Regions from separate parts of the Homo sapiens genome. Here region 1 is linked to region 2. The links come from fine-mapping of genetic effects on gene expression. A gene starts in region 2. The other region holds a variant in brackets. All regions are shown on one strand. Distances are between the middles of the regions. Region 1 has its middle 20 kb from the start of KRABD4. Region 2 holds the start of RP2 (RP2 activator of ARL3 GTPase).

Evidence for each region. PIP is the estimated chance that this variant, and not a neighbour inherited with it, causes the effect. A credible set is the group of variants that fine-mapping cannot tell apart.
Region 1: its variant is the best candidate, but not a certain one, in a credible set for the expression of RP2 in whole blood (TOPMed, PIP 0.88).

What each region holds. Positions count from the first base shown.
Region 1 is chrX:46,422,560-46,432,542 of GRCh38, reverse strand. No RefSeq gene overlaps it. Among named protein-coding and RNA genes, the nearest start is that of KRABD4, 20 kb to the left of the region's middle. The variant GA/A (reference allele first, on the strand shown) is at 5,158.
Region 2 is chrX:46,832,872-46,842,854 of GRCh38, reverse strand. It overlaps RP2 (RP2 activator of ARL3 GTPase), which reads right to left and starts at 5,812. Exons shown (of 5, transcript NM_006915.3): 1 at 5,653-5,812. The coding sequence starts at 5,754. RefSeq lists an enhancer at 5,681-5,820 and a silencer at 6,131-6,210.

The DNA of each region.
Region 1 (9,983 bases), 410 kb after region 2:
ACTGAGAATCATCTTCTTTACCTAAAGTCAACTGATTATAGATGTTAATCACATCTCCAAAATATCTTTGTAACAACACCTAGATTAGTATTTGATTGAATAACTGGACACTATAGCCTAGCTAAGTTAACACACAAAACTAATCATCACCGTCTACCCCTTGTAATCTTGGTACCATACACATCTCCTTAAACTATGCTTAATCTTCAAATAAAGATAATAACAAAGTCATATTTCCACCTAACATGATACAATTATCCAGCATACAACCAAAACTGCACCAACTCTTTCCCTAGAAGAGGATGCAAATACCTTTGAATAATGTTCACTCTTCTCCTTGACATCCTGTAACTGAAATAAATACTGTGACGTGAAGTTAACTATTATTAATACATCTTATGTTAGATTATAAAGGGATAAGAGAGGGAAGAAAACAAAAATACTACATATGCACACACACATAAATATCACATATTCATACAAAAACAAAGAAGAAATAACAATTATAGTCCTCATTTCTGCAACCAGTCATGTGCTCATAGCTAGGTACTTATAACTGCCATCTTTCATTACTATTTCATATTCCCTTTGCCCTCAGCAAACACCTCAGCTGGTTGTGGTATTTTGCCTGGTGGGGTTACACAACCTTCATTTCTGAGGGGTGTGGACAATTATGAGTCCTGCCTGGATTGAGTTGTAGTTCTTCATTGACTTTAATCACAGCACATGGTGGTACCAAGGGATGCCCTAAGGAAACTCCAGTACTCTAGATAAAATCCTTCTTACCTTCAATTGTATTAGCAGCCCAGTTTCTCCTTGCTCATCAGGCCCAATCACCCCAGCTAGTACAGTAACTTCCTTCTTTGCCTGTTGATTTAGAGGCAAGAGGAACCCAAAGCAGCTGGATGGCAGTCTTAACTTCCAGTTCAATGGAATCATTGTTGTGTCTCCTAGTGGAAAGCATTCCTTCCTTTGAAACTAAGATCTCTAGACCAGTAAAACATAAGGTCGCAGAGATTGGAAGCAAAAATTTTGCTAGTGGATCTCTAGGGGTGGGTAGTGCCATTCTCATTTCCATCCCTTGATTCTTGGCCTCTGCTGAGATGGTTGATTGGGTCCATGAGTAACACACCTAATCTCTTCAGCAAAAAGTTATTTAGCAAAACCCTTAACCCTCTCCCTGGAACATTTATTCCCAACAGTGAATTTTCTTTTTTTTTTCCCGACAGTAAATTTTCTTTTTTTTTTCTCAACAGTGAATTTTCTAATTTTAGCATCTTTTGCAAACTTGGTAGGCCAAGAACCTCCCAAATCATCAAATGCTCATTCCATTTTGTTTAACAATTTCTTTCTCAATTTATCTCTTTCCTCCTGCATTTTACTTTAAGCAGCGAGAAGAAACTAGGCCACACTTTTAGCACTGCTTGGAAATCTCTTCAGCTACATCCCTAAATTCATCACTTACAAGTTCTGCTTTCTACACAACTGTGGAATACAACTCAGCCAAGTTTTCTGCCACTATATAACAAGGATCACCTTTTCTCCATTCCCAATGCACGTCCCTCATTTCCTTCTGCATTCTTACTATACATGCCTTTATTGTTCATATTTTTATCAACATTCTGCATAACAATATATGTATTCTCTAAGGTTATAGAAGCCTTCTCTACCATACTCCTCATTTCCTCCTGAGCCGTGACGTGAATTGCCTTGATGTTCATATTTCTACTAACAATCATTTCAAGGCAATCTGGAATTTTTCCATCATGCTTCTTAAACTTTTTCTAGCCTCTGTCCGGTATTCAATTCCACAGCCATTTCCATATTTTTAGCTATTTGTTACTCCAGCACCCTGCTTCCTAGTACCAAAATCTTTATTAGTTTCCTAGGGCTTCTATAACAAATTACCACAAATTTAGTGGCTTAAAAACTGAAATTTACTTTCACACAGTTCTGGAGGGCAGAAGTCTAAAATCAAGGTTTGACAGGAATGCAATTCTTCCAAAGGTGCTGGGGAAGGATGCTTCCTATTCTTCCACCTTCTGGTGGCTCTGAGGAGTCCTTGGCTCATGGCTACATAACTCCAGTCTCTGCTTGTCTTTACTGGTATTCTCCTCTTCTCTCTCTTCTCCTCTTAAGTCTCTAATAAGGACATTTGTCGTTGGATTTAGAGCCCATCTGGATAATCCTGAATAATTTCACCTCAAGATCCTTAATTTAATTACTTTTGCAAAGATCCCTTTTCCAAATAAGGCTACATTCACAGGTTCTGGGGGTTAGGACATATCTTTTTGGGGACTACCATTCAACCCACAATATTAACATAGCTACACCAACCATCTTTTGATTAGTATTTGCATTGTATATTATATTACATCATTTTGCTTTTCATCTCTGTTTTCATATTAATGATATATTTCCTGTAAACCACATATAGTTACCCTTCTTTTTAAAATCCATTCTGACAATTTGAGCTTCATCATAATTACTGATATATGTATGTTTCAGTATACTATGTTACTACTTCTCACCTGTTTTGTCTCCTATTATTTGTTCCTTTTTTTTCTCCTTTCCTGACTTTTGGATTAATCAATTAACTTTTATTATTCTATTTCCCTTCCTTCACCTTCTTAGTTTTGCATTCTTTAATCATTATTTTAATGGTTCTAAGGATTATGATGTACACCCTTGATTTATTAGTCCACTACAGATTAGTATATTTACTACTTCCTCAACAATGCAATGATGTAAAATATTTCAACTCAATTAATTCCCTTTTATATTTTGTACTATTGTTGCTGTGAATGTCAGTTCTATGTATATTTTAAGCCTTTCAATACATTATGATAATTGTTTAATACAATCAGTATTCATATAGGTTGACCTACATATTTATCCTTTCCTGTACTCTTTATTCCTTTTTGCATTTTCATATTTTGGGGCTCATTATTTTCTAACCTGAATAAATACTCTGGTGACAATTAATTGTATCAGTTTTGGTTTTTCTGAGACTAGTTTTACTTTATGTTCATTTTAAAGGATATTTTCACTGGGAATATAATTCTGGGCTAGCAGCTAAAAATAAAACTCAATTTTCTAAACTACTTTATTATACATCAAGAGTTGGACTTGTGACAGTTCTGTCTAATAATGAGCAAGTGGAATTATCTGGAGAGGGTATTTGTTTTTTGAGACAGGGTCTCACTCTGTCACCCAGGCTGGAGTGCAGTGGCATGATCACAGCTCACTGCAGCCACCAACTTCTGGGTTTAATCAATCCTTCCAACTCAGCCTCCCGAGTAGCTGGAACTACGGGCCAACACACTGGGCTAATTTTTGTATTTTTTGTAGAGCTGGGGTCTTGCCATGTTGCCCAGGCTGGTCTGAAACTCCTCGGCTCAAGCAACCTTCTGCCTCATCCTCCCAGAGTGCTGGGATTACAGGCGTGAGCCAACACACCCGGCCAGAGAGGGCATCTTTCCCCAATAAAAAAGCAAAACCTGGAAAGGAGAATATATTTTTGTCATTAACTTCTTTATCCTTCCTTACACTTGCCTGGAATGTAGACAATACCTGGTGTAGGCCAGTCATCTTGTAGCAATGAGGCAAAAAACAAGAGGACAAACTAAGAGCTAAATAGTAACAGTATGGGTCCCCCCTGACAGAATCATTGAGCCATTGCATTAGTCCCAGACTGATTGTAACCAGACTCCTTATCAGGTGAGCTAACTAAACATCTTGTTTTTGTAGGCCATTGTGAGTGAGCTTCCTGTTACTTGCAGCTGAAAATATTTCTAATATACATTGAGATTTAGGAGAACTTAATTTTAATTCTAATGCAACCCCAGTGAATGTCTGTGCAGAAATACATTGCATTTCTGTATATCAACAAAAAGACGTTTAGATAATGAAATTAAACAAAATAGTTTACCCCTAGTGCCCATTATCTTGATCTCTAACCACCATTCTCACTAAAAGGGCACCAGAGATTTTTTGGGTAATGTCTAATTCCAGGTCTGGGGGTAGAAAAATACATGTTGCTCATGGGCTATCTTATTGTGCTAAAAAGCAAGGAAATGCTTAAAGACTCATGGGGCCCCATGACATAGGCAGCATCATGAAGGGCCTTCACTGGCCACATTTGAGATCATTTCAACATCAAAAAGAATAACGGCCGTAATTTATTCTAACACATTCGATAAATTAAATTCCCTAAATTCATAATGATACTTCAAAAACATTATAAGGAAAGGTTAAAAGGAAAAAAGGTGAAAGCTGTTTGTTTTGTCTTATAATGGATTTCAGGTTAACAGACTCTCAGATGGAAAGCTGGATACAGAAAGTTTATTGGGAAGAGATCTGTGGAGAAACATCTGTAAGAGGGTGAGGAAGACAAGACTGGACCGAGAGAGAAGTTGACCTACAATGCAGTTACAACTGAGGCCTGAGACAATTCTACAGAGAGCTCTGGAGCTGGGATGGCCCTTCAGAGTTGTCTCAAATTAAGGAGAGTGGGCTGAACCTTTGTAGAGTCATGCACTGCCTAAGAATGTTTTAGTCAATGTCAGACCGCATATACAACTGTGATCCCACAAGATTATAATGAAGCTGAAAAATTCCTATCATCTAGTGATATTGTAGCTGTCATAACATCTTAGCATGATGCACTACCTTCTCTACATTTAGATATGTTTATGTACACAAATACTTACCATTGTGTGACAATTGCCTATAGTATCCAGTACAGTCATACACTGTACTGGTTTGTAGCCTAGAAACAATAGGCTATGCCATGTAGCCTAGGTGTGCAGTAGATGATACCATCTAGGTTTGTGTAAATACACTCATGATGTTCGCACATGGATGAAATTGTCTAAAGGAGCGAGCATTTCTCAGAATGTATCCCCATCAGTAAGCCATGCATGACTTGTATTTCTACATCAGATACTCATTGACTACTGCCTGTTCCTTGAGGGGTGAAAGGGGTGGGTAGCCTTGAGTAAAGCAGTTCTCTGTAGCCAAGGTCAGTTTGAAATGAGGGACATAGCTGTGAAGTCAGTAGCTGATTTTCCCAGAAGTAGGAGGATAGTGTGTTGGCCCTGAAGAGGAGATCTGAGCAGAGCAACACATTATTTACTACAGCCATTATTTATAAAA[GA/A]ATGCCACCTAATAAATATACAAATAATTGTGTAATTAGTAAATCACTATTTTGCAAGCCTCAGTGTAATAATTGATTCAGGCAAAGATCCTTGAGGGATGTTAAAAACATTCAATAAAAGTTGTTTTTGAACACGATGCTAACATCCCGCTCTCTAAAATGTCAGTCCACAGATTACTTGCTAGTTAGAAAACTTAGCATCATTAAAGTGGTTGCACAATATTACCCATGAAGTGTTCTTGGTCATTATTAAGTATTCTGGTTAAAAATGCTTAACCTGAAACTGATCAAACCTCTAGACCTAACTTCAAGTCTACAGAAAATACAGGAGATAAAGGAAGAGTTAGACGACATCATGAGGAAACAATCAGATGATATAGAATGTGGGACAGTCTACAAGTTAACTGGCCTGGTTTCTTTAACAAGTCAGTACTGGACTAACAGGCCAATGCAAGGTAATAATGGTAGTGCAGTTTTTGGGTTTTTGGTTTTTTTGAGACAAGGGCTTGCTCTGTCACCCAGACTGGAGTGCAGTGGCACAATCATGGCTTATTGCAGCCTGGACCTCCCTGGCTCAAGCTATCCTCCCACCTCAGCCTCCCGAGTAGCTGGGACTACAGGCATGCACCACCACATTCAGCTAATTTAAATTTTTTTTTTTTTTTTTAGAGACGGGGTCTCCCTGTGTTGCCCAGGCTGGTCTCAAACTCCTGGTCTCAAGCAATCATTCTGCCTTGGCCTCCTGAAGTGCTGGACTTATAGGCATGAGCCATAGGGCCTTGCTTATAGTGTAGTTTTTGATCTCCCTAAATGCTATCTTAAAACCATTATGATAGCAAAGAACCATTATGATGGCAAAAGAAAAAATTTCCCAGATTACATTATGAACAAAACGAGGTGACGAGCATCCCCAGGAACACCAGAATGCAAATGGTTGCAACCAAACCATTGACAACGGCAAGACCTTTGTAGGTCCTGTACAGGTTTAGCAGCAATACAGAGAAGTAGTGGAGAGAATATAAGGATGTTCTGGCGCGGGGTGTAATCCCAGCACTTTGGGAGGCTGAGGCAGGTGGATCATGAGGTCAGGAGTTCAAGACCAGCCTAGCCAACACGGTGAAACCCCATCTCTGCTAAAAATACAAAAATTAGCCGAGTGTGGTGGTGCATGTCCGCAGTCCCAGTTACTTCGGAGGCCGAAGCAGAATTGCTTGAACCTGGGAGGTGGAGCTTGAAGTAAGCCGAGATGGCCCCATTGTACTCCAGTCTGGGCAACAAGAGTGAAACTCTGCCTCAAAAAAAAAAAAAAAAAAAAAAAGAATATATAGGGATGTTCTGATGGCCCCCAAAAGCCCAAAAAGACCGAATTTGCAAATACTCCTGAACTCAATTACTTACTGTCTCAGTTTCTACCACAGGAGTTACTCCTACCACCAGTTTCCTCACCTGACAACCTGTCCACTTGGGTCACCACCCTTCAAGATTCTTCCAACTGGCTGCCTTCTTGGCCCCTGGGAAAAACCCACACATCTTCACCCCACCAAACTCTGGACATACACGCTGTCTAGACTCGCTTTCCTTACCCTGCCATGTCAGGCTGCTACACGAGCCTCCTCTCTACAGGTTTATCCAGGTAGAAGCAGTCATCAGTCTCTGTCCTTATCTACATTCTAAAACTCTGAGGACATGTCAAGCTTTACCAAAAACTCCCTCAAGCTGTATCCCAGAGACAGAATTGGGTAGGTCTATACGTTTCTACAGCTCAGCACCTGGGGCAGAAGCAGATGTCAGTCTCTCCATATGGAAGGCAACCTCTGTTATTCTGAGTTATCTCGTGGACCCTCTCTTAGCTTGAGGTGGTAGTGGTGATGTCCATATCAAAGTGACGAAGTGCTCTCTACTGCAAGATTTTCCTATTAACGTTTTTTTTCAAAGAAGGAATCTGCAACCTACTCTCACATAGGTTGGAGGGGGATAATCCAAAGATTTGTTGGCCACCTCATGGTTGCATTTTCCAAAATATGTAGAAACACCATGTCAAAATATGAATGTACCAGGAATTAATGGGATACAAATAGAATATTTGTATCCTTTCCATTTTAGCCTTGTATCTGCCTCTGGGTTAGTTATCCAGTATTTTGTAAACCCAAAGTAACCTTATTTCTCATAGACATAGGTGTTTTTCTAGAAAAAATAAAATCCTTCACACTGACAGGAAATGACACTAGATGGTAGCTCTGATTCACTCAGAGAAATACAAAGCTCCAGAAAAGGTAAATCTGTAGGTAAATATACAATATTATATAAATATATATTTTTTTCCTAATGTATCTAAATGACATAAGATTGCATGAAACAACTCATTTTTTTTTTTTTTTGAGACAGAGTCTTGCTTTGTCGCCAGGCTGGAGTTCTGTGGTGCAATATCGGTTCACTGCAATCTCTGCCTCCCGGGTTCAAGCGATTCTCCTGCCTCAGCCTCCTGAGTAGCAGGGATTACAGGTGTGCACCACCACGCTCAGCCAATTTGTGTATTTTTAGTAGAGATGGGGTTTCACCATGTTGGCCAGACTGGTCTCAGACTCCTGACCTCAAGTGATCCACCTGCCTCAGCCTCCCAAGGTGCTGGGATTATAGGCGTGAGCCACCGCACCCAGCCTTACATAAAACAATTCTTATAAAATGATTTTTATGCTTATAACATATAAAAATATAATGCATATATGAAAATAATAGCAGAGTGTGTGTAGGGGGGAGAAGTGGACATATATGATATTAGTACAAATTTTTTATATTTTGCCAAAGGTAATTAGTAATGACTATGAAATAGAGAGTGACAGGTTAAGATTCATATTGTAATCCCTAGAGCAACAACTAAGAAAATAACTTTTAAATATGTAGCAAAACAATTCAACAAAGGAATTTAAAGACAATGTAGGTGAAGTGGACAAATTGCTAGAAATAAACAAATTACCAAAAATGATTCAAGTAGAGACAGAGAATCAAAATAGAACTACACATAAGTGGGCCAAGCGAGGTGGCTCATGCCTGTAATCCCAGTACTTTGGGAGGCCGAGGGGGGCAGATCACCTGAGGTCAGGAGTTTGAGACCAGCCTGGCCAACATGGTGAAACCCTGTCTCTACTAAAAATACAAAAATTAGCCGAGGGTGGTGGTGGGCGCCTGTAATCCCAGCTACTCAGGAGGCTGAGGCATGAGAATTGTTTGAGCCAGGGAGACGGAGGTTGCAGTGAGCCGAGATCACACCACTGCACTCCAGCCTGGGCGACAGAGTGAGACTCTGTCTCAAAAAAAAATAATAATGATAAATAAATAGAACTATACATAAGTAAAGACATCTGAATTATTTCAGAAATTTATAAGCTGATCTTAATAGGACTCAGAATAACAAAGAGATTTTTGAAAAAAAACAGAAGTTGAAATACTTTCACTTTCTGATTTCAGAAATTACTATAAAGCCGCAGTAATCAAGACAGCGTTGGTCAAAGGATACAAAATTTTACAGCCAGGAGGAATAAGTGTAAGAGATCTATTGTACAATACAGTGACTACAGCTAATAACAATGTATTGTATACTTGAAAATTGCTAAGACAGTAGATTTCAAATATTATCATCACAAATAAATGATAAGTATGTGTGGTAATGTACATGTTAATGAGCTTGATTTAGCCATCCCACAGTGTATACATATTTCAAAATATCATGTTGTACAACATAAATACACACAATTTTTATTTGTCAATTTAAAAATTTTTAAAAACTATTCTAAAAATAAGTTTAAAAAGACAGTGTGATATTGTCATGAAGACAGATGATGGTACAGAATCGAGTCCAGAAATAAACCCTTCCATTTATGGTGAATGGATTTTTGACAAAGGTGCCAGGACAATTCAATGGAGAAAGGATAGTGTTTTCAATGATAGTTGCTGGGACAATTGGATGTCCACATGCAAAAGGATGAATTTGCACTCTTACCTCACACTATACACAAAAATTCACTTGAAATGGGTCAAAGACCTAAATTTTAGTGCTAAAACTTTTAGAGAAAAACATAAGAGAAAACTTTGGTGTGATGGTTAATTTTAGGTGTCAACTTGACTAGATGAAGGGATACCTGGAAAACTGGTAAAACATTATTTCTGAGTGTATCCGTGAGGGTGTTTCCAGAAGAGATTGGTGTGTAGTCAGTGGACTGAGTGGGGAAGATCACCCTCAATGTGGATGGGCACCATCCAGTTGGCTGGGGGCCCAGATAGAAGAAAAAGGCAGAGGAAAGGTGAATTCGTGTTCTCTCTCTTTCTCTCTCTCTCTCTCTCTCTCTCTGTCCTGGAGCTGGGACACCCTTCTTCTTCTGCCCTTGGACATCAGAACTTCAAGTTCTCCAGCCTTTGGATTTTGGGACTTGCACCAGCAACCTCCTAGGTTCTCAGGACTTTGACATTGGACCGAGAGTTACACCATTCGATTCTCTGGTTCTGTGGCCTTCAGACTTGGACTGAGCCATGTTACCAGCCTCTCTGGTTCTTTAGCTTGCAGATAGCCTATCATGGGATTTCTAAGCCTCTATAAGCACATGAGCAAATTCTCCTAATAAATCCCCTCTTATCTATCTATCTATTTATCTATCACTTATCTACCTATCATGTATCTATCCTATTGGCTCTGTCTCTCTCTGGAGAACCCCAACGAATACAGATTTTGGTACTCAGAAATAGGGCTGTTGCTATAACATATACCTGAAAATCTGGAAGCTACTTTGAAACTGGGTGGTGGTTATAGGCTGGAAGAACTTGGAGGAGTATC
Region 2 (9,983 bases):
ATCAGCTGATGAATAGATAAATAAAATGTGGTATATCCATACAATAGAATAAAGTCTTGATACATGTTACGATATGGACAAACTTCAAAAACATGCTAAGTGAAAGATGCCAGTCACAAAAGGCTAAATATTGTGGCTCCAATGAAGTGAAATGTCCAAAATAGGAACACTTATAGAGACAGAAAATAAGTTTGTGGTTTCCAGGGGCTCGGAGAGACGAGAATGGGGAATGACTACTAATGGGTACAGGGTTTCTTTTTCCAGGGATGAAAATGTTCTAAAATTAGACCATGGTGATAAGCCTGTGAACTTACTAAAAAATACTGAATTATATACTTTATTTTTAAACTAAATTTATTTTAAATTTTTATGGATATATAATAATAGTAGTATGCATTTATGGGGTACATGTGATATTTTCATACAAGCATACAACAATGTAATGATCAAATATGGGTAACTGGGATATCCATTACCTCAAACACTTATCATGTCTTTGTGTTGGGAACATTCCACATTTTCTCTTCTAGCTATTTTGAAATATACAATAAATTATTATCAACAATAGTTGGCTGTGGTGGGTAGTGGGGAGGAGAGGATGAAGAGTGGTTGGTTAATGAGTACAAAAACACAGTTAGACGGCTAGGCACTGTGGCTCATGCCTGTAATCCCAGCACTTTGAGAGGTCGAGGCAGGCAGATTGCCTGCGGCCAGGAGTTTCGAGACCAGCCTGGCCAACATGGTGAAACCTCATCTCTACTAAAAAATACAAAAACTAGCTGGGTGTGGTGGCACGCGCCTATAATCCCAGCTACTTGGGAGGCTGAGGTGAGAGAATCGCTTGAATCCAGGAGGCGGAGCAGTGAGCGGAGATCATACCACTGCATTCCAGCCTGGGCAACAGAGTGAGACTCCATCTCAAAAATATATATACAGTTAGATAGAATGAATTATATACTTTAAATGGGTGAATTGTATGGCATATGAATTATATCTCTAAAAAGCTATTTTTAAAATTAATAAACAAAGAACTAGTTATATCCTTTAAACAACTTTATATAGAGGATTTAAAACCTACTGGCAAATTCTTTGACACTCCTCCCATTGAGAGGTCACCTCCTCTTGGAACTGGGTGGGCATTTGTGACTGCCTCAGCATTACTCCTGCCACATCCAAATTAAGTCTAATTAAGTGACTTAAGAATTCACTTAATAAGCTAGTTAGAAAAAAACCATGCAGCTTCTGCCAGTCTCTCTTAGGATGCTTGCCCTTGGAACCCTGCCATCACACTGTAAGGAAGCCAGGAATACATGGAGAGGCCCCAGCTGAGCTCCCAGCCCAAAGCCAGCATCAACTTGCCAGCCAGCTATGTGGTCAAGCCATCTTGAAAGCTGTCACGGTTGATGCCACATTGAGCAGAGTCAACCCTGCTTAACCTTATGCAAATTAAAGAGTTATGAACAAAATATCTGCCATTATTTTAAACCATTAAGTTTTAGGGTGGTTTGGTACACAGCAATGGGTAACTAGAATACTTTTCATACTTAAAAGAAGGCTAAAAACAGTATCTAGCCTCCTCCTACTTAGTGCAGACACTTCTTTCTAGCAGATTACCACCCTAACTGTCTGACAATTTTGACTAACATGGAGATCAGGTCCTCAACGAAGCCACCCCTTCCACTGATGACCAATCCTGGGAATTATGATCTGCCTTATGTTAAAACCAGTTCTGTCATGCCCAACCTCTGGTTTAAGTTCTTTCCTCAGAGGTGACCATTACTGTCTAAACCTCTTCTTCAGGACAGGCCTTTACCTTACTAAACAGTAGAGAAATCTTTAGCATTGTCCTACTATATAGCTGAGGAACCTGAAGTGCACAAATTGGCTGCTTTACCCAAAGTTACACAATAGATACTCGAATTTCTGGTATAAGATTTTTGTTTAGTATTATTTCTATTGAATATGAGACAAATATAACAGACACATGTGTTGTCCTTACTCAAATCACAATTTTCACACTTAAGCCATAATTGTTTAGAGTTAATCCTCATTTCTATTATCTAGGAGGAAAAGTATGGGCATGAATACTGGAAGATGAAAACTACTTTTCCGTATCACTCTTCCTCACCTCATATGTACTTAAATGTTTCCTGTTTTAACTCCAGAAAGCCAGTAAACTCTTTTAGGGCAGGGATAAGTCTTATAATTTTGAGACTTACTTGGTGTTTGAGTACATACATACTGAATAATTTGCCTACCTATGGGTGGCAGCATACAGATAAGGATAAAAACATTTCTTTTGAAATAATTTAAACACAAGTCTTACAATCCAAAAATATTTCTCATCACATCAGTGTAAGAATTGTAATCTTTTTTCTTTTTCAAAGTCAGTAGCAATAGAAAATGAGCTTCTTACACTGTTGACTACAGTATGTCAGTTGCTATGACAATGCTTAGTCCCCAGACATTCCTTCTAAATGAGACAATTTCTCCCAGCTTCAGTCCCCTAAGACTGACCCAATTACACAACTCAAACCCCAAAACCCAAGGGGTGCCCTTCAATAAAGATACTCTGGGCTGGGAGCGGTGGCTCACGCCTGTAATCCCAGCACTTTGGGAGGCTGAGGCAGGTGGATCACCTGAGGTCAGGAGTTCAGGACTAGCCTGGCCAACAAGGTGAAACCCTGTCTCTACTAAAAATATACAAAAATTAGCCAGGCGTGGTGGTGCACGCCTGTAATTCCAGCTACTCAGGAGGCTGAGGCTGGAGAATCGCTTGAACCCAGGAGGCAGAGGTTGCAGTGAGCCGAGATCGCGCCACTGCATTCCAGCCTGGGCGATGACAGAGCCAGACTCCATCTCAAAAAGAAAACATCAAAAAAAGATACTCTGATTACACAACCTAAGGAAAAATGTAAACACCCTTTTCTAAGCTGCAAGGAAATTTTTCAGGCAACCCATTTTGTTTTTACATGTAAAAGTCTTACAAGTTGAATGGTAATTGTCTGATATAACTTTAAAACTGTATATGCTATAATCCATAACCACATTCCAGAAGCCTAAACTTTTAATATAAATCATTTCTATTAATATGCATGCATCATATCTCATTTATGTTCTCTGGGCTGTATTTGCAATCTGTTCCTTTTAAGGTACAACTGAAATCTTCTAGGAGCAAGCAAGGCCATGCTCAGTAAACGTATCATTGGACTAATACAGAACATTTGCACACTAGCCCAAATTAACCTCACGGGAGGCAAGGAACTAGGAAAAAATATTTTATTTATTTATTTTTTTTTTTTGGAAACAGGGTCTCACTCTGTTGCCCAAGCTGGAGGGCAGTGGCCCGATCATGACTCATTGCAGCCTCTAAGTCCCAGGCTCAGGTGATCCTCCCACCTCAGCCTACTGAGTAGCTGGGACTACAGGTGTGCACCACCATGCCCCACTAATTTTTGTATTTTTAGTAGGAATGAGGTTTCGCCATATTGCCCAGGCTGGTCTGGAACTCCTGGGCTCAAGAGAGCCACCAGCCTTGGCCTCCCAAAGTCCTGGGATTACAGGCATGAGTCACCATGCCTGGCCCTAGAAAAAAATATTTTAAATTGTATAAAATTTAACAAGCTATCAAAATGAGGCAACTTAGAAAGAATTCCTAGTAATTCCAAAAGAAAAAAAAACTAAAAAGAAAAAGCTATGTTGGGAAATGTGGTATCTGCATTGTCTCAAAATGTAAGCTGGTAATTCTCTTCAACAGTCCAAAATATTTTAAAACTGGGGTTTTTTTCAGAATGCTCATTTGGTTAGAAATTCTCATTTTGATTGGCTGAGTTGATCAAGATTTTAACTTTTATTATACACACACTCAGAAGCATGAGCTTATTTTATATATCCAATAACATCTCTTACAACTCTACAACTACAGAACTTAGTAGTGTTCTCAAAAAAAAAGGTTCTCTGTAAGCTCAAAACAGTTTCTACAATTGAAAGTTTATTACACACTCATTTGTGGGGAAAAAGCTTAGATGTTGGTGTCCAATGTTATATTTCTCAATGCATTTACTTAGCCAATGGGCAAAAGAAGAAAAAAAATCACAGGACACACACACTTATCTAAAAGAAGGATTAACATGAGAAGTCCTAACTAACCTGAATATTATGTTAATAAACATTAACTGTAAAACAATTTATTGTGAAACGATGAGTCATAGGCAGCCAAGACTACTATAAATAAAAAAGGCATTTTATTTAGTTTAGATTTAGCCTGAGTTCAAAAGAAAAAACTAAAATAAAAATGAAATATGCAACTTTCTCTAAGGCAGACAATTCAAGCTAAAAGAACATTGTTAGAAAGCCAAAGGCTGAGGAAAACAATATCTTTTAAAAACCGCCCATCAGATAACTTTAAATGGCAGGTGCAATCTTCTTGTGAAATAGAAAGCATAGTACTTTCTTCCCCTACATTATAAAATGCTACTATCGAGTATGACTAACAGAGAATAAAGGTACCATGTGACCCAAGAAGGGTGTGTATGAGAAGTAGGGGCAGAAAGACGGGGCTGAGAAAAGCTGCAAAAAGCTTTCAATTTCCTAACTCTGACTCTTAGAGACCAGAGCTTACCTGAATACATTCTGCTGGGGATTGGAAATCATGCAGAAAGGTCTGTGATTCCAAAACGTTAATACATTTATTATAAAGTAATCTTGGGTAAAGATATGTTGCCTTAAGCAAAGAGTTAACTGTTCATAATACCCATTTGAAAAATCTCTCATTTTGTTTGGGAGAAATAATTGATAAGTCCATCAAAGTAGTTTAGTAAGCACAAATGGAGAACTATGTAGAAAGAGGAACTATTATGAAATGTATGACCGAGTGTGTTTTGTGTAAGACTAATGGAGGTTTTCAAAGGTTTTTCGTTTCTGGCTATATACAAAAATAAAAATAAGGGCGTTTTCATTCATTTAAACCAGCAGTAAAATACTGCCTGGTTTATGCCGCTTATTTTCACCTTACAGTCTTAATACACATTCCAAGACTGATGCGATATTCATTATTTCTTTCGGATAACTGGAAGAGGAGGGGGAGTAAAGCTGTACATTAAACAGTCCACTTGGTAATTGAGAAAATTCAGCAGTGAAATATATCATGAGGCACCAAAGAGATTTGCCGGGGAGGGCAGACAAAAGAGAAAACAGCCACAGAACATTAAGCCCCGGAAGAGATGAGAATCGGTCCCATATACGTAACTCGACGACTGGACAAAACCCCGCTTGACGCTGCCGGTGGGTGAAACGAGGTGATTTGAGATTCAGGGCGTTCTCGGCTCTTTCCCTCTCTCGAATCGATCATCTCCAACAGGAAGTCAGAGCAAGGCAGGGTTCGGAGTCAGAGAAAGCTCCCGGGGGAGTCTGTCTACCACGACAACAAACTCCTAAGGCTCCTTCCGGAGCTCCACAGCCCTCTGGGCGGCCTCTCTAGCGCTGTACTTCACGTCCCCGCTCCCCAAAAAAGTCGTGCACCCCGACTTCAGCTATCCGCGTTCAAGAGAGTGCGGCAGCAGTTGGGTCGGCCCCCTCAGCGGTCCCGGGCCGTAAGGGACCTGGCGGAGCGGCTCAGGGAGGCTGAGACGGCGGCTACACGACTTTCATTACCTTCTCGCGCTGATCCCAGCTGTACTGCTTTGGCCGCTCCTCCTCGTTCTCGGGCCGCGACTCCTTGTCAGCCTTCCGTCTCTTGGAGAAGAAGCAGCCCATGGTCCCAGCCCGCGGAGCTCGTTGGCCAGCTCACTAGCTCAGGCACTTCCTAGAGTGTGGCGTGAACCCTGGGAACCCCGGCCTCGCAGCTCTCCGGACAACGCCCCGCGGAACCGCCCAACGGTCCGCAGCCTTAGTTTGCCCGCCAGGCCCAGCACCCCTTCCCCTTTTTCGTCGCCCTGACGACCCAGCGCAGCCAATGAACGCTCAGCGCCTGTTGAGCCAATCAAAGCCTCTCGAGCAATCCTGCGCGGCCTATGAAGAGAGGCCGACATACCCACATACCAATCCACGCCTGGCTCCTGCGACAGCCCCTGGCGGCGGGGCGGGCCGGCTCTGGCGCAAGCACGGACAACCCCGCCCACAGCTGTGGCACGGACCGCCCTCGGCCCCGCCCCTCCTGGAACTTGGTGGGTTCTCTAGCTGGTGGGAGGCCAGGCTCGGTATCCGGGTTTTTTTTGCCCCTGATTCATAAATTTGCAAGTTCAAGGCGCGGGAGAGATCTCTAGTTGAACATTAGATTTATCTTATGATGAAAGTTGTGAGGGACAGAAATTCCCGCTGACACAAGAAGACCCTGAAATTTGTATTTCTAAATCCTCTTCTCCCCTCATCACCCTTCCTACCGCCCTCTCATCGCCTGGCCAGGGTCACCCCCTCAAGAATTGTACCCCATAACCTCCCAATCCTCTTCTGTGCTCTTTCTTTCTTTCTTTCTTTCTTTCTTTCTTTCTTTCTTTCTTTCTTTCTTTCTTTCTTTCTTTTTCTTTCACAGGGTCTCGCTATGTCACTCAGGCTGCAGTGGCACAATCATAACTCACTGCAACCTTGCAACTTTGCAACCTTGACTTCCTGGGCTCAAGCGATCCTCCTGCCTCAGCCTCCTTCCTGAGTAGCTGGAACTACAAGCAAGCACCACCATGCCCACCTATTTTTTTTTTTTTTTACTTTTGTAGAAATGGGGTCTTGCTATGTCGCCCAGGCTGGTCTTGAACTCCTGGGCCCAAGCGATCATCCTGCCTCAGCCTCTCAAGGTGCTGGGATTACAGGCAGGACCCACCGCACCCCAGGCTGCTTCTGTGTTTTCTTAAGACTTTCACATATGGCTCTAAAATTGCACAAGTACTTAGTAAAATAGTTAATTGTGTATTGTTTCCCTATTTGAACTGTGACTTTCTTGAGATCAAAAAGGTATATCTTTTTTTTTTTTTTTTTTTTTTGATGGAGTTTTTGCTCTTGTCGCCCAGGCTGGAGTGCAGCAGTGCCATCTCGGCTCACTGCAACCTCCGCCTCCCGGGTTCAAGTGATTATCCTGCCTCAGCCTCCAGAGTAGCTGGGACTGCAGGCGCCTGCCACTACGCCCGGCTAATTTTTGTATTTTTAGTAGAGACGGGGTTTCACCATGTTGGGCAGGCTGGTCTCGATCTCCTGACCTCAGGTGATCTGCCCGCCTCGGCCTCCCAAAGTGCTGGGATGACAGGCATGAGCCACCGCGCCTGGCCTAAAAGGTATGTCATAAAGGGCATGCAGGGCCGGGCGCGGTGGCTCACGGCTGTCATCCCAGCACTTTGGGAGGCCGAGGCGGTAGGATCATGAGGTCAGGAGATCGAGACCATCCTGCTCAACACAGTGAAACCCCGTCTGGTGAAACCCCGTCTCTACTAAAAATACAAAAATTAGCCGGGCGTAGTGGCGTGTGCCTGTAGTCCCAGCTACTCGGGAGGCTGAGGCAGGAGAATTGCTTGAACCCAGGAGGTGGAGGTTGCAGTGAGCCAAGATGGCGCCGCTGCACTCCAGCCTGGGCGACAGAGGGAGACTCTGTCTAAAAAAAAAAAAAAAAAAAAAAACCAGAGCCGGGGGGGGCGGGCACGGTGGCTCACGCCTGTAATCCCAGCACTTTGGGAAGCCAAGGCGGGCGGATCACAAGGTCAGGAGTTCGAGACCAGCCTGGCCAATATGGTGAAACCTCATCTCTACTAAAAATACAAAAATTAACCGGGCATGGTGGCGGGCGCCTGTAGTCCCACCTACTCGGGAGGCTGAGGCAGGAGAATAGCTTGAACCCAGAAGGCGGAGGTTGCAGTGAGCCGAGATGGCGCCACTCCACTCCAGCCTGGGCGACAGAGCAAGACTCCGTCTCAAAAAAAAAAAAAAAAAAAGGCAGTGGGGAGGAAAGCTGAGGGGAGGGATGTACCTTTGAATCTCCTACACCTGGCCCAAGTCCATACTAGGTGCTCAATACAACGTTTGTCAAATGAATGAATGCATGCATGGGTGCTAGTGAAGGAAGCATTTATAAACTTCCCCCATCCCTTCCCAAAGAAAGTGACCAAACTGTGGGGGTGGGAGGCATGTGGATTTATGGTAAAGGGGTTCTCCTCATGGAGTTTATAGCCTCGTTGAGGACATAAGCATTGCATATGAACGATCAGATCTGTTCTAAGCAAATGGCATAGGGTTCGTCAGAATATATTTAAAGATATATACACTAAATATAAACATTTGTTATACTTGGGTCGAATTTTACTGCAATACACATGCATTGCCTATGTAATAGAAAAGAAAGGTAAGTCAGTTTCTCTGAGAAACAGTATTTTGACATCTCAGTAGGATATCAAATGCTGATCACTTCAGGTTCAAATTTGGTTATCTTTTAAATTTCCCATACTTATTCACATCTAGTTTGTATCCTAAATGAGCCTCTGACTTTTTTTTTTTTTTTTTTTTTTGAGACAGAGTCTCGCTTTATCACCCAGGCTGGAGTGCAATGACATGATCTCAGCTCACTGCAACCTCCACCTCCCAGGTTCAAGCAATTCTCCTGCCTCAGCCTCCCGAGTAGCTGGGGCTACAGGCGCACAAAACCACACCTGGCTAATTTTTGTATTTTTAGTAGAGACGGGGTTTCACCATGTTGGCCAGGCTGGTCTCGATCTCCTGACCTCAGGTGATCCACCCACCTCGGCCTCCCAAAATGTTGGGATTACAGGCGTGAGCTACAGTGCCCGGCCGACTTAATTTGAACATAAAGAATGTTCCCCTTTTTACTTCCCGTCCTTTATTGCACAATCGGGAAGAAAAGTACATGTGCTTAAGTATTAGAAATTACTGCAAATTTAAGTTCCAGATCTTAGGCAATAGAGTCTTTACCCAGTGCACACTTTTTCTCCTTCAGAGTGAGATGAAAGTTTTATGTGAAGATGTTTTTGGATAAGACCCTCATTCGATATTTTATAATCTATTATTATATTTATAATCTATGGTCTATGATTATAAAACATCTGTGACCAGATATAAATATATAACTATGACCACTACTTAGTGTAGCAGAGGAGGCAGAGATCCAGAGAGGTGAAGGGATGAATCTGTGGTCACGATGAGAGTGGCTGAGCAGGGACTGGAAAAATCCACATCCTGTGTTTCCCAGTGCCTCCTCCTGCCTTAAGTTTGTTCCTCTCTAATTCATCTGAAATAAGTATCTGCCTCGGCCTTCTGATGCCTATGGGAGCTCTGTCCCACAGTGATGCTATTCCTCTTAATGAACAAACAATATAACAAAACTAATTCTAGAGAAACAACCTCTGAAACTCTCACTGTTTTGAAGTATTCATTAATGAGAAAAGCTCAAATCTACAATAAAACCTATATCCAAGAGTGATCTTTTCAGGGACCCTTAAAAGTGAAGATAAAGTCCCTTTTCTGTTCATTCCCATCCTACCATCACTCTTGACCAAAAACAAAATTACAAAAAGAAAATTAAATCAAATGTTAAGAACTGGGGACTAGAAAGCTAATGAACAGAGCTAATACTAGTGCTGTCTCATCCTTTTTCTTTCTCTCTTATTCTTTCTTTCTTTTCTGCCCCATCTCTTTTTCACCTGTCCCCATGAATTCTCATCACTACTTATTTTTGCAAACCAGCTCTCTACTTACTCATCAGCATTTACATGGTTGACAACAGCTATCCCACCCTGATTCCTCATGGCCTTTCTGTCCAAGGGCATGCTACAGTCTCAGACTCTCAAGGGAGATAATCATATACATTGCTGGCCAGTCAATAACAGATTGGCTCTAGGTTGGTATGCACCCCTGGTCCCATTGCTGCAGCTGCAGGGGCGAATTCCAAACATGGGTGTTACAGATATGGGTGGGAAGCAGGTCCTGAAAAGGGAACGCTAACTCTGAAGAGTTCAGGCAGAAGTTGGTTGCTTGTTCTGCTTGTGCTCCTC